Linked DNA regions of Homo sapiens. The protein of the gene in region 1 interacts with the protein of each later gene in a pairwise test. Each region holds a gene or a part of one and is shown in the gene's direction. Other genes may lie near its edges.

Region 1 (8,682 bases):
CTGAGATCATGCCACTGCACTCCAGCCTGGACGACAGAGTGAGACTCCATCTCAAAAAATAGATATAGCTATATAAAATATATAACACGTATATGTAAATATACATGTATATAAATATATATGCATATTATATACAACATGTATATAAATATATATGCATATTATATACAACATGTATATATAAATATATATGCCTAGACCCCCGCCCCCACCAAAAAATATCTATAAGGAAACAAACCAATAAGTCAGAACGATTATTTCTTGGTGGATGAAATTATAGGTAAATGTTTTCCTTCTGTGTTTTGTGTAATGGGCATGGATTACCTAAACACAAACAGTAAACTTTATTTACGAAAATAATGGGACATACCCCACTATTTCCTTCTACTCCAACCCCTACCCCAGCAAGGGCCTCAGAGTAACTGAAGCCAGAGGCCCCACGGAGTCGTTCTTGCTGCTGACAGAGCCAAACCCCAGTACCCCATGGGCCCTGGTTGTTTGCTGGACAGATGCCACCAAACCACTCTCATTGCATTAGCCTGGATGCTGTGGCCCCTAAAGGCCACAGCTTGGGCTGCTGAGGGTTGACCAACCAGCCAGTGGAACCAGTGGTGGAGACTGTGACCATAACAGTACCAGGAAGGAACACTGTGGCATCAGCAGCATGAGAAGCCCAAGATCTCCCAAGACAGATCTCTGCCCATAATCCATGCCTCTTATGTGGCAGCATGTAATTTAGGCCAGCAGTCTTCCTCAAGTGGGGCCAAGGTTGGGGATTAGTCTGTGATGGGGTCAGGCTCAGACAGGGTCTAGGTCAGCCCTTAGTTGAGTAGTCTGTAGCCTAGGGCTAGATACAGGGCTCAGTCCATGATTGGGCTTAGTCTTTAGTCTGTGACCAGGAGCCAGGCTCAGTCTGTGACCAGGGTCATGTCTCTGTCAATGACTAAGTTCAGGGCTCAGTCTGTGACCAGATTCAGGGCACAGTCTTCCGTTTAGGGCTCAGTGTGTGACCAGAATTGCATGATCCAGGGTCAGAATTCAGTCTGTGGTCAGAGTTCAGTCAATGATTAGGCTCAGGACTCAGTCTTTGACCAAGATTAGGGCTCAGTCTTCTGCCAGAGTCAGGGTTAAAAGGTTAGTCTGACTCTTCTGCCAGAGTCAGTCTAAAAGGTTAGTCTGGGCTGGGGCTAGAATTCAGTCTGTGACTAAGGCTCAGTCTTAGAGAAGGATAAGGGCTTGATCTGGGCCCAGAACTAAGGTCTCAAGTTGGGATCAGCCTAATTCAGGCTTAGATCAGTATGTGACTAGAGTCAGGGTTCATTCTAAGGTGATGTCAGAGCTCAGTCAAGAGCTGGAGTAGAGGCTTAGTCAATACCAAGAGTCGGGTTCAAGTTGGAGGATCAGGACCATGACCAGGGCTTAATCTGGCTCTATGCTCTGTTCTGAGCTCCAATAAAGAAGCTTCTGGAGGCATAGGAGCCCAGAGCAAGTCAGTCTGCAAGAAATGAGAGCCCCCAGGCAAGCTTAGCAGGGTCTGGTGGCTGCAGGAAGTTTCCCCTGGACTGCTGAGGCCGGGTGTCCTAGAGCCTCTAACCTACATGGCTCTGCTGCTTGAGATCCCCTCGCACCAGAATAAAAATAGCCACTCACTTCAGAGCAGCTGACAGCGGGTGCTGGGCTGCCTAGGAGGAGGGGGAGCCGAAGAGAAGGAGGAGAGAGGCCTGAGCTCAGCCCCAGCTGTGTGACCTTGGGAAAGTCACTCCTCCTCCTCCAGCCCATTTCCTGAGTGGCAGAATGGGGAGTGAGGATGACATCTGCCTCAGAGGGTGAGAATGAAGTGCTGGGGACATAACATGTGAAGCTTGTTACCAACAAGAAACCCTGGAGTGAAGCCTTGGGAGAAGAAATGCTCTTTTGTGCCCTGTATACTTCCTCCTCAGGGAAGCCCTCCCAGATAACCCCTTCTTTCACATTCCCACAATATCCTGTATCACCCTCTACACCTTTGCAGATGGTAGCCATAGCATGACCTCCCTCATGGCGGGCCTGGGTCAGGGTGACCAGGGAGAGAAAGGAAGGAGGACAGACCCTCGGTACCGTTGCCATCCTCAGGTGCCCCTGGAAAGTGAACCGAGGAAGAGGAGGAGGAAAAAGACAGGAAAGACTTCTCTCCCTTCCCTGCTCATGTTTACTCCGAACCAAAGGGCAGGAGGGTACATGTCCAAATTTCTCATCCTTTCACAGCCAGAACCTTCCTTCCCCATCCATGCTTTGTACCTGCTGTTCTCTCTGCTTTCCAGCCAGGGCGTTTCTCTTCTTCGATTTGGCAGCACGGACTCTCCTTCAAAGAAGGGGTTCAACAGTCAGCTCCTCTGTCGGGAAGAATTATCCACTGCCTCTCCAGGAGCTCCATGCTCTGTCCTCTCTCTACTGGCTGTGTAATCCCTGGGCCTCGGTTTCTTCCTCTGTCCAATGGGGGCCTCATTACCAACCTCACAGGGTTACTATGGAGAGTAACTGGGATACTCCATCTATCACTGGCATCCTGCCTTCCTATCCCTGACCCACACAGCCTGAAGGACAGCACTGAGTTTCCAGGAGTGGGCTGGATGAGCCCTGGACCCTGCCTCAGTACGCCCACCCCCCTCCCCCACCAAGAGTGAGGGCAAGGAGGGAGCCAGAAAGGGCCTCCAGAGACAGCCGTCTCCAGGGGGGCGGTTCTCCCTGACAGCTGCCCCCAGCCTGCCGCCCTGAGCCCCAGAGCCTGTTATCAACCTCCTTAGTCATCACACCAGGAGCTCAAATATAGCTCCAACTCACTCCCTTTTCAGCTGGGGTCCGCCCCCTACCCCCTTCTCCTGACAAGACCAGGCTTGGGTCTCAGAGCCCCTTCCTTGTCCTCCCAGGAGAGTAACCACCCTCAGCCTGTTTCAGCATCCACCACATGGGCAGGCTGAAGTCAATGGTGGTGATGATGATGATGATAAATACAGAGCAGCCACCTTTATGGAGAGCTTGCTGTGCCAGGCAGGCTCTATGCTAAACATTTCATATATATTATCCTGTTGAATCTTCACCAGCAAACTTAGGAGGTGTCTGCTGTTTTAATCTCCCTTACACAAATTGGGAATCAGAGTGACCTCCTCAAGTAAGTCAGTGGCAGGGCCAGAAACAAAGTCCCCTGCAGGGTCTGAGCTCAGGGAGCGGGTGGTGGGAAATCCTGGGTTGCCCTCCTGAGGCAGAGGAGCCCTCTGCAGACACATTTGCATGACATTTGCCTGGCTTCCAAAGGGCACTGATGCCCCTGTCCCAGCCCTAGATGGCTGAGCCTTAGGACTGGTCCCAGAGGCCTGGATCTGCCCATCATTCCCTCTAGGATTGCATGAAAAGCTGGGTAGTCTTGGGGGCTCCCATTTTCTTTTTCTTTTTTCTTTTCTTTCTTTCTTTTTTTTTTTTTTTTTGAGACAGGGCCTCTCTCTGTCACCCAGGCTGGAGTGCAGTGGTACGATCTTGGCTCATTGCAACCTCCACCTCCACCTCCCAGGTTCAAACAATTCTCCTGTCTCAGCCTCCCAAGTCGCTGAGACTACAGGCATGTACCACCACACCCGGCTCATTTTTATATTTTTAGTGGAGATGGGGTTTCGCCATGTTGACCAGGCTGGTCTCGAACTCCTGACCTCAGGTGATCTGCCCACCTCAGCCTCCCAAAGTGCTGGGATTACCCGCACTTTGCCAGTACTCCCCCAGCCCGGGGGCTCCCATTTTCTTATTTGTAAAACAGGAGACAGAGGATAAGACAGGATGAGTTCGAATCTTCCTTTTTCTGGTAACCTGAGCATCACCACCAGGTCTACTCTCACATCCTCCCTGACTGTCACCTCCAACTCCAACACTACCTCTTTCATTGACACAACACCATCATCAGTATTGGTATCATCATCACCTCTACCTTTGCCATCACCATCACCTCCACCACCTTCACCACAACCACTGCTAGCCCCCTACTTCCATCATCACAGTTACATACATCATCACATCCATCACCACAGTCGCCTTCCCCGTCACCACTGTCACCATCTCCACTATCGCTGTCCAAAGACCTTTCTACCCCAACACTCTAATATGGCCTGAGTCTCTGCCCCTGCAAATTCCAGCAGAGATGCTGGCCTGAGAATACAGACTAGACCTACTGACAGTCAAGCAGAGGTAGGAAGTGCCTTCAGGAGAGGAAAGTGAGGCATCTGCCTTCATGTAGGAGACTGCACAGGCCCATGCAGATGCTCCATGTTGGTTAACAGGGAGCTCTGCACACACAACTCTGAACACTTTCTGCCTAAAGTGGGTGGGATCACTCCTCTCTAAGCCATGAGAAACAGATCCCACAGCCATCCCAGCCCAATCTGACCCTCATCACCCATTCACTCTTCTAATTCATTTATTCATTCAACAAACACTCCCGTAGGCCTGTTGGGGACCATGTCCTGGGCTGGGTCCTGGCTGTAGCAATTCTCAGGCCTGTTTGTAACTCTCTTGTCAGTCTGTTACCCCACTGCTGGGCCCTTCTCCACCCAAGTTCCCTTCCCCCAGATAGCTCGAAGGGCTTGTGCTCATCCTAGGTCACTAAGTTTTCTCACTGAAACACAGGAGACCTTCTCAGTTCACCAGGTGACCTTGAGCAAGTTCCCCTCCCAAACCACACCCAGTGAATACTGGAGAGAAGAAAGCTGACAGAAGCCGGGCTGGGTTAGGCCTGGCTGTGGGGACATCTGAGGGCAGCTAGGTGTCTGCAGAAGAGGAGGGGCTGGTGCTGAGGCCTGAGATGGGAAAAGACTGCAGTGGCTGGAGCCTGAGTGTCTGGTTCTGGGTTGGGAAGAATAGAGCCTGGGACTGGCAGTAGGAGTGGAGAGGGTGGCACCAAGACCTGAAAATGGGGCAAGGGTGGGGGCCGGGGCAAGCTCTGAGCTGGCAGGGAGCCAGGAAGGTCACAGGATCAGGGCAAGAACTCAGTTGTCTCTGAGGCCCTGGAGAGGGTGCAGACCTCTGAACCACCTGTCCTACCTTAAGGCAGGTGTGTTAATGCCCCTCCCTGGAGCAAAGGGCTGACCAGGCCTACGGCAGAAAGGTGAAGGTAGACAGACAGCCTCCTTCCTGCTGCCAGTTGGGACCTGGGCCAGGCAGATGGGTACACTCTCCCCTCCCCACTCCATGGCTGTTCCAGCCTCAGCAGCCAGTTTGAAGGATTCCCAGGGGGTAGCCACCTTGCTTCGGCCTCTTCCAGGCTGGGAAGTGGGAGCCTGTGCCTTTAAATTCTCAGCAGGTTGAAATGGCTGATGACATCACTGGTTCCCGGGAGCGGTAGAGCTGGAGCCGGAGCCAAGGGAGTCCAGGCTGCCGGGGGCTGCAGACATGGAGGGCCAGAGCAGCAGGGGCAGCAGGAGGCCAGGGACCCGGGCTGGCCTGGGTTCCCTGCCCATGCCCCAGGGTGTTGCCCAAACTGGGGCACCCTCCAAGGTAAGACCCCTGAGACCCAGTGCCCCCCGCTTTCCTGATCCCTGGTTCCACACACCCCCCCCACATACACTGCAGGCTCCCTGGTGCTCCTGACTGAGGGGCTGGTACTTTCCTCTGCTCAGCGAGCAGGGGCTAGGTGAAGAGAGCACCCTGGGGGCTGAGGGGCAGTGACAGGATGCCCGGAGACAGATGAAGTTAGCCATCTCCAGGAGCCCTTGGGAGAGTCCTGGACTGGGTATCAGAGGACCCAGCTGTGCTCCACCTTTGCTGTGTGACCTTGGCCAAGTTGCTTTTCCTCTCTGAGCCAATGCAAAATGAGGGGGCTTGTCGCTGAAGACTAAAACTGTGACATCTGGGATGGCTAAGTTGTTAGTACTGGAGGCGGTGTGATAGTTGGGGGGAAGCCGGCACACAGTGTGACACTTGGAGCCAAGGAGGGTGCCTAAAATGCCACCTCAAAGAACTGAGTTTGAGAAGGGAGGTGGAGATGGAGTTTTAGGTACTCTGAACTGAGAAGGATACGGGACAGAAACAGAAGTGCGTCTCCAGAGGCAGGGCCTCCCTGCGCCCTGTTACCCTACCTAGGGCCATCCTGGGGCAAGTATAGACATTCTTCTGCCCTCCTTGGTGAAGGACACTTTATCCTGTCTTCTGGAGACAGGGGACATCAGAGAGAATAGATGGGGAAGGAGGATAGGTCTCTACAGGACTCCGTGACTCCCCACCCCTCCCACCTGCCGGACATAAATGGGATACCTGCTTGCCTGTCCTTTCAGGTAGGGGAGAAAGTGGAGGATGTAAGAGGGCACAACCTGGGCACAGAGAGATGTGACACCAGGATCAACTTAGAATCCTGGACTTGCTCTGAATGCTAGATTCACACTTGGTGAGGATGGACTATTCAACGGGGCTAGATGGAATTCTAGCAAATGTTGGGCTCATAAATGCAGACAATGGGAGATGAAGATTCCCCAGAATATAATGTGGCCAGGAACCCTAGACCCCATCCCTTCATTTTACAGACAGAGAAACTGAGGCGCTGGGCAGAGAGGTACTTGCCTAAGGTCACACAGAGCTGGGCTTTGAATCTACACAGCCAGTCTCAGCTCCCAGCTCTTGCTCCTGAGTGGAGCTCTGGGAATGGGTAAGAGAACAGAGAGGGCTGTAACCAAGGGATTTGGATGTTTAGGGGGCGGTGGGGAACTGAGGGTTTCTGGGCATTATGAAGGAAGGGAGAGGTATTTAACAAGCTGCACCTGTAGGTCTGTATCTTGACAATAGAAAAAGAAAAGAAACAGGCTGTCCCCAGTGTGCCCAGACCTGGGATGTCAGGTCAGTAGCCGTGGCTGGGGGAGCTTCAGGGACTGCAGTGGGAGGGTTGCCCAGGGAAGCTGCCCCGAATGGGCAGGGTGTGGGTGCCAGCCAGGAAGGCAAGGCAAGTCCTCAGGTTTAGGTTCACACTCTGCCTCATTTGAGTCAGGGTCTGAGTTTCCCCATCTGTGAAAGAGGTTTCAGACTTAAAGGAGGGGTTAGGGTTTTGTGTCCTATCTCCTCCAAGACAGAAGTTGACCTGCAGCAGAATAGATTGAAGTGAGATAGTAGGAAGAACTTCCTTGGAAAGATGTGCCTTTCTTAGCTAGATGAACTCTGCCAGGGTCTATATGGAAGTTGGGGCCCAATGCCCTGGTTAGGGTCACTCTGAATCTTTGACTTGTCCTCCACAAGGTGGACTCAAGTTTTCAGCTCCCAGCAAAGAAGAACGCAGCCCTAGGACCCTCGGAACCAAGGTTGGCTCTGGCACCTGTAGGGCCACGGGCAGCTATGTCAGCTTCCTCGGAAGGACCGAGGCTGGCTCTGGCATCTCCCCGACCAATCCTGGCTCCACTGTGTACCCCTGAAGGGCAGAAAACAGCTACTGCCCACCGCAGCTCCAGCCTGGCCCCAACATCTGTGGGCCAGCTGGTGATGTCTGCCTCAGCTGGACCAAAGCCTCCCCCAGCGACCACAGGCTCAGTTCTGGCTCCGACGTCCCTGGGGCTGGTGATGCCTGCCTCAGCAGGGCCAAGATCTCCCCCAGTCACCCTGGGGCCCAATCTGGCCCCAACCTCCAGAGACCAGAAGCAGGAGCCACCTGCCTCCGTGGGACCCAAGCCAACACTGGCAGCCTCTGGCCTGAGCCTGGCCCTGGCTTCTGAGGAGCAGCCCCCAGAACTCCCCTCCACCCCTTCCCCGGTGCCCAGTCCAGTTCTGTCTCCAACTCAGGAACAGGCCCTGGCTCCAGCATCCACGGCATCAGGCGCAGCCTCTGTGGGACAGACATCAGCTAGAAAGAGGGATGCCCCAGCCCCTAGACCTCTCCCTGCTTCTGAGGGGCATCTCCAGCCTCCAGCTCAGACATCTGGTCCTACAGGCTCCCCACCCTGCATCCAAACCTCCCCAGACCCTCGGCTCTCCCCCTCCTTCCGAGCCCGGCCTGAGGCCCTCCACAGCAGCCCTGAGGATCCTGTTTTGCCACGGCCACCCCAGACCTTGCCCTTGGATGTGGGCCAGGGTCCTTCAGAGCCTGGCACTCACTCCCCTGGACTTCTGTCCCCCACCTTCCGGCCTGGGGCCCCCTCAGGCCAGACTGTGCCCCCACCTCTGCCCAAGCCACCCCGATCACCCAGCCGTTCCCCAAGCCACTCCCCGAATCGCTCTCCCTGTGTTCCCCCAGCCCCTGACATGGCCCTCCCAAGGCTTGGCACACAGAGTACAGGGCCTGGCAGGTGCCTGAGCCCCAACCTTCAGGCCCAAGAAGCCCCAGCCCCAGTCACCACCTCCTCTTCTACATCCACCCTGTCATCCTCCCCTTGGTCAGCTCAGCCTACCTGGAAGAGCGACCCCGGCTTCCGGTGAGGGGGCCCTCTCCCAAGAAAGGTGGCTGGGGCTTAGCTCTGAGGTTAGCCATTCTTCCAGGGTGGATGGTGTGCTCTACCTCAGCTTCTCTCTCTGAGGAAGAGTCTTTGGGGAGGGGGTTGCTGGGCCCACTCTGTGACGCTCAGAAGATAGCATCCCCTCCTAAGGAACTTGCCGCCTCTCAGTTGATCTCCCCAGGGAGAGTGTGGCAGAGGGACAGGATTCGGGGCCTCCTGTGGGTCCTTCTTAGGGCTTTGGCCCACACCTGCCTCC
Region 2 (6,676 bases), on another chromosome or scaffold:
AATGAATATATCAAGTAGACAGCATATATGCACCCAAGTTCCGAGTAAGAGGACTGGAAAAATAATTTGGTAACCATCATCTTTTAAATGGCCATGAACCTAAGCACAGTGGTCATTGATGGAGGTAGTGCTGGCAGAGATGAGTCTCAGGAGTGTCCCCTAGAGCACCTTAATATTACTTAGTTGGAGAGATGAGAATATTCAGAAGAGGATCCAGAGAAGGGGAGTCCAGAAACATGGGAGGAAAATGAGGAGACTGTGGTATCCTGGAGGCCACAGGGAGAAAATGTTTCAAGGAGGAATCTTCTGCTTCAAATGTGTGCTGATAGGTTAAATAAGATAGTAGCTGGGAAAGAATTGGCTGGAGTTTAGCAAAGTGTAGTAGAGAGATGGGGGGAAAAGCAAAATTGAATTTCGGCGACATTAAGAGAAAATAGGAGAATGGGAATTGGAGTCCACTAGTACAGGCAACTTTTCGTGAACTTTGCTGTAAAAGGAGCAGAAAAATGGGCAGTAGCTGGGAAAGGACATGGTAAAAAGGACTTGTTTAAAGGTAACAGAAATCATAAAATAATAGCATGTTTGCAGGCTGATGAACTGATTCAGTGAAGAAGGAAAATTAATAACAGGATAAATAAGGGAGAAATGACTCAGTATTTGAATAGGCAGAGAACTTGAGGCCTAGTGCATACATGGATAGTTAGCCTTGGGAGCAGGGAAACAGCTCTTATATAACATAATAGGAAGGCAGGCAGAACATATGGGGAAAGTGCTGTTAGGAAGAACTACTAGAGGAACTTACGGAGGTTTTCTTCTAACTATTTTATTCATAAATTAGGAAATGAGATCAGCTCAAGGTGAGGATTGGGGAATAGGGTTAGAAGTTTGTAGAGAGAAAGTAGAATATATTCAATACTTGTCTAAGACAGTGGGCAGTTACATGACCTTAGGCAGGACTTCTTGGCCTTTGAGGCTGGGTTATTCTCTGCTGTAGGAGAGGCTGACATTATAGAATGTTGTGTGCATCCCAGGCTTCTACCCACTGTGTGACAGCAGCAGCCTTTCCCCTTTTTCTCCCTCAATTGTGACGACCAAAAGTGTCTCCAGATATTCCCAAATGTCCTCTGGGGCCAAAACTGTCCCCAGTTGAGAGCCACCAGTCTAAGGAAATGTAGTATAATTGTCAGGAAGCATTAACAGCCAAGTTAAGGTTCATAATCATGAATTTAACATGAGATCATTCAGCATTGTTGTGTTATATTCAGCTGTGCAGGTGCAGGCACAGAATACGCAGAAAGTTAGGTTTAACCAGGATTGGGGTTTTGCCAAAGGAGTACAATGAAGAGACTAGAGAAGAGCCAGGGAGTTATTTTAATAATTGATCATGGCATTTATACCAGGCGAGGATAAAAGTGAGGAAAGATGGTAGGAACACTAGACTGTAGGTCCTACTGGGGTCAAGGATTATAGAGATTGGGGTTCTAGAGAGGGTGATGTAATATTAGGGATTTTCAAAAAGAACCTACTCCCTGTTGGTGTCTAGGAAGGAAATCTCAGATGGAGGAAGTGCAAGATGAACTCATCCACAGACTGACCATTGGTCGGAGTGCCGCTCAGAAGAAATTCCATGTGCCACGGCAGAACGTGCCAGTTATCAATATCACTTACGACTCCACACCAGAGGATGTGAAGACGTGGTTACAGTCAAAGGGATTCAACCCTGTGTGAGTCTCTCTGTGAATACTTTGCAATTCTGTGTGTACAACATGCATTGTTTTCAATTTGCTTAGTTAGATGTCACAGATAACTGTTATAAAACATAAGGGCACAGACTGCATACTTTGTGCCATACTCAAGAACTCACTATAGCTGTTCATAGCTGAAAAAGAACTAAAATAAGCATAAATAATTATTCTGATGCCACCCCATTTTCGAATTGGTAGTATCTGTTCATTATTAGTTCTTTAAGCAAACTATTGGCAGCTTTGAGGCCCAGTAGCTTCTTTTCTCCATCAGATTACTGTGATGTAACCTAGGTAGGACCATGGTCTTAGCTGAACTTCCTAGACCACATAGGACATAGAGCATAAGCTTTCCTCCTGCTGCAGGATATAGTGTCTCTGGCAAATAAAAAATAGTGTTACCTAGCATCAATTATAATCTTAATAGAACTTTTCCTTTAATAAACCCATAGTAAAGGTTCTATTTATCTATCTAAAAGTCTATAAACATTTCATATGTATTTGGCACAATGAACTATTAGAATAATACATATTCAAGGGACCTTGACATATTATAAACTCACCTACCCAGCATGATTGAAAAATGAGATACAATGGTTAGTCAATTGCCAGGTTACTAGAAAGTTATCTATTCCTTCTATAAAACACCAAATCCCAAGAATTGGTATTAAACAATGACCCTAAACCGAATTGGCTCATTTTTGATACTTTGTAATTAATAATCTGTATAGCCTCAGGGTCATCATCATGAAAGAAACTTGTCATTGCCCTAACTATAAAGACTGTAGTGGCATTTAATAAGGGTTCCAGGGTATGGAACGCTTAGAAAAGAGAAGTTACTAGCAGGAACAGATAATTTTCTCCTTTGTTTGTAGGCAATATTTTTAATGCTCAGTTTCTTTTTCCTTTTTTTTTTTTTAGGACTGTCAATAGTCTTGGAGTATTAAATGGTGCACAACTTTTCTCTCTCAATAAGGATGAACTGAGGACAGTCTGCCCTGAAGGGGCGAGAGTCTATAGCCAAATCACTGTACAAAAAGCTGCATTGGAGGTATGACTTGTCAACCTAAGGTGGTGTTTTTCTGCAAATTGAAAGCTCTGGAAACAACTATTTATGTCCATATTGGCCAATTTCCCTTTCTTAACAGAGCTGAATTAAATTTAACTCTGCTTTTGTAAATTTGTCACTGAGATCATCAATGACAGTTTCCAGAAGGTTAATTTGTTATAAATGCTCATATGATGTGAAGCTTGAGCACATACTTTTGGAAACTTGACAAAAAGCATAATGTTCTCATTTTATATGTATTGACTAATTCTATAGGAAATTTAATTTTGACATAACAATGGAAATTAGCTTCTGAGTGAGTAAGAGCCTTAAGAGGCCAGAATCCTTGCCTATTCTTAATATTTTTTTTTTTTTGGAGATTCTAATAACGTATAGGTTATAAGATTGTAAAACCCTGGCTGTGTGTGTTAGGTCTAGTAATACATCTCAATAATCGGGAAAGATACATTAGGTAGAGATCACTGAAAATAGAGAGCCTGGAAAAGTATTTAATCACAATGGTCTGTATGAAAGCAGGAGAGTCATGTTTTCTAGATTGCTTTATACTTAAGCTTCCAATATCCTATTTTAGACTTAAAATGTGCTATATACGGGTAGTAGTTTCCAACTGTTACATCTCACAGCTCTTAATAGTTTCATGAAAATTATACTTGGACTCAAATGAAAGAATGTAGGCTTTGGCATGAAATTGATCCATAATCATCTCTAGCAGGTATATTCTATAAATTCAACAGTTAAATAATTCAGGGTAAAATCACTTCATGCGTATCACCCCGTAGCCATTCTGAATCAAGAGAAACCATATTTCCCTTGGAGGTTTTCCCTACAACATTGATCTTGAAGGCTCCATATTAAAGTTTGATTTGATTGCTTTCCATATGTTGAATATTAATAAGGATTATATATTTTTCTCAAGCAGTTTTATTACCACTATATTTAATTTTGTTGAGAGTATATAATTACTTCTTCAAGGTATGTTAGAAAATGCCATATTCCTAAAATTCTGAATTCCTTCATCCCACACCTGCCTATCATTATTGTCATTTGCTGTCACCACCCACTTCAGGATGGTCTCTTGCTTCTTGTTCTCTTCCTATTCTCTGCATGGGAACTGAGGCAGAGGCTGACTACCTGAGGTTCTTCATGTTCCTCAGCCACCTTCTACCACCTCACCCTTTCCTTGGATCTAGTTAATCTTTTAGATTATTTGCCTGTGTTGCCAGAGACTTCTGTTGATGGGAAAGGAGAAAAGCCAGCATGGTCGGAGGGTCAGAACTATATGGAGGGGAAACTGGGTGAATTCTGAGCCCACTCTGGCCTGAGTTAAAATCTTCTAAAGGCAGATCAGTATCTTGTTTGAGCCCAAAAGAGTCCTTTGATAATTTACCATGTTATTATGCTTATTGTACACATTTCCTCTTTCTCTCAGCAAACCTAGAGTACTATACATACATTATTGATTTATCTTTATCATGTTCAAATGAAAGGCCTGGTGAGTGAATTGCCTTAACAGACTTTACAAAATGAAAAATTATTAATGTGATATATTAGTGAAGTGCAGAAGCTTCACTTAAAAAGTAGAGCTGTTAGCTTTCCTAAAGAGATACTAGAAGAAAACCACAGTAGAATTTTATCCTGAGCCATTTCATGATATGACCTGCAGCCTGCACAAGTCAGTAACTATCTTGTCTGAACTGTTTATCTTTCAGGATAGCAGTGGCAGCTCCGAGTTACAAGAAATTATGAGAAGACGACAGGAAAAAATCAGTGCTGCCGCTAGTGATTCAGGAGTGGAATCTTTTGATGAAGGAAGCAGTCACTAATTTGTTTGTTTGTATTTAAACTCCATTGTTTTTGGCATTATTCCAACATGCTTTGTTTTAAGAAGCCTTGAAGGGAATGTCAGATTCATTTTTCTTGATGTAATTTATCACCATAAAAAAAAACCCATGCAAACCTGAGTGAGCACAGGATTTGCTTCTAGGCCCATTATTTTTATTAAAACTGAAAAAATTTAAACTGAATTTTTTGACCTTGGAAAATATTTTTCTTACTTTACCAAGGTGAAGTTTCCTTAATTAGACTAATTATTTTATCCCCATCCCAGGGTATAAACAGGAATTGTTTTGATAGTGGTGGAGTTATTCACTGCAACAAAGCAACAATGTTGTCCATGATTCAAAATCTAAGCAGTTTCGATTTTGCCTGTGAATATGGTGTCTGTCATTCAGGGCATAGCTCACTGTAGGCTAGCCTCTGCTTACTTAAGTCTCTTCTCTGACATACTCAATGGAAGAATATTTAGATTTATTTAAAGTTCTTAATGCCAACAGTTTAAAAAAAAATTAAAACATTTGAATGAACTGTAAAGTACAGCCATACCTTGGACATGCAAATATAAATCTATGGAGCATTCTCAAGAGAGTTTGTCATGGCTCTGTTGATTGCAACTCCTTGTATAGCTTGTATTTTGATTTAGTTTATATTCTGCTTATTATGTATACTGTGTTCTTATATATGAGAAAGCACAAATGCGAAAGAGGTCATGTCTTCTCAAAATCTAGCAAAGGAAGTAGTCTGCATTGGTGTGCATTACAGTATTTTGCTTAATGAAAGCCTCAGTTCTGAATGTTGATATGAGTAGTTAAAAGGAAGTGGGGCCATTTTATGTGTTTATCTGTGTCAAGTATTTCTGGTAATAAGAAGCACTTAATTTACACATATTTTAATCCTGTGAAAGATTCCACATAGAGAAAAGAAAGATACCTAACCTTCAACAAATGTTATTTTTGGAAACACAATTTTTGTCATTAAATGTTATATTATTTCACATATATAAAACAGATGTTATGTAAGAATGTTGTATATTTTAACATAAATCATTTAGAGAAATTATCTAGATTCATTAATTTTCATAGTGCCTTTTTCACATGAGTCAGCTGGAAAGTCTGCAATAAACAGTATTTGCTGTCTGTTAATAAATGGTTTCTGTCTCATTAGCAAAAAGGATCTGTGCTAGATCGGCTGAGGATTCGAGTTGAATGCAATGGGAAAAAGTAGAGATCCACATTTTAAAAAAACTATATATTATTCTATTTCTGAGTGGGTAGAGAAACTCTAGAATACTTTTTTCGGTTGTTTTTCTTCTTTTCGCCTCTTGTTTCATCATCTTTTCCTTCTACCATCTAGTCATATTTGGTAATGGTAATGGAACTAATTTACACTGCGCTTACGATTGCTAAATGCTTCCATATAAATGCTTTCCTGGATATTTACAACAACTCTATATGAATTATTACAGATGAGGAGATTTAGCTTCCTAGAAGCTAATTTTCCCCAGATCCTGAAGGATGTGGGAGTTTCTCATCTTCTATCTCTCGGTCTCTCTATAACACTGCCCTTTGGATAAAGTGGAACAAACATGAGCATGATAAAGGTGAATTAGTTTAGATCTTTTACATTTCATAAGGACTGATACATATGTATAATTTAGCCTTTATTGAAAGGGATAAGATGAAAGAAAATAAGATCCAAAAGTTAAGATAACCTGCGTGTAAAATAGCAGACGGATATGAAAAGAATTGGTGTAATTTACATCTTTATGCTATAAGATGCCAAAGGAATGTATCACAGAGGTAGTAATTGCAGAAAGCAGTCACATCAGCTAAGGATGTGGGGACAAAGAGAAGAGGTTCCTGGAATTTAGAATCTTGAGGGAGCAGCACCACAGAATTTGGATCCAGACATCTGAGGGGTTTGGTCACTGGTATCTGAGGATTTGAGGAAAGACCCCACAAAGCTAACAGGGGGACACAGCCTAATCAGTGTTTTTGCCTCAGGTATTCAGAAAAGATTTCAGGAATTG

The links. Proteins that work in one complex are often made in the same cells at the same time.
Region 2: the proteins of INPP5J (region 1) and EPS8 interact in binary tests that used the Homo sapiens proteins (3 or more experiments, as listed by UniProt).

The regions. Positions count from the first base shown.
Region 1 is NC_000022.11:31,117,606-31,126,287, forward strand, and holds the start of INPP5J (phosphatidylinositol 4,5-bisphosphate 5-phosphatase A), read left to right. Parts: upstream 1-5,360; 5' UTR 5,361-5,409; coding exon 5,410-5,514; intron 5,515-6,290; exon of another isoform or gene 6,291-6,400; intron 6,401-6,536; exon of another isoform or gene 6,537-6,658; intron 6,659-7,239; coding exon 7,240-8,405; intron 8,406-8,682. UniProt on the Homo sapiens protein: Inositol 5-phosphatase, which converts inositol 1,4,5-trisphosphate to inositol 1,4-bisphosphate.
Region 2 is NC_000012.12:15,619,275-15,625,950, reverse strand, and holds the end of EPS8 (epidermal growth factor receptor kinase substrate 8), read left to right. Parts: intron 1-1,543; coding exon 1,544-1,724; intron 1,725-2,663; coding exon 2,664-2,793; intron 2,794-4,520; coding exon 4,521-4,634; 3' UTR 4,635-5,817; downstream 5,818-6,676. UniProt on the Homo sapiens protein: Signaling adapter that controls various cellular protrusions by regulating actin cytoskeleton dynamics and architecture. Depending on its association with other signal transducers, can regulate different processes.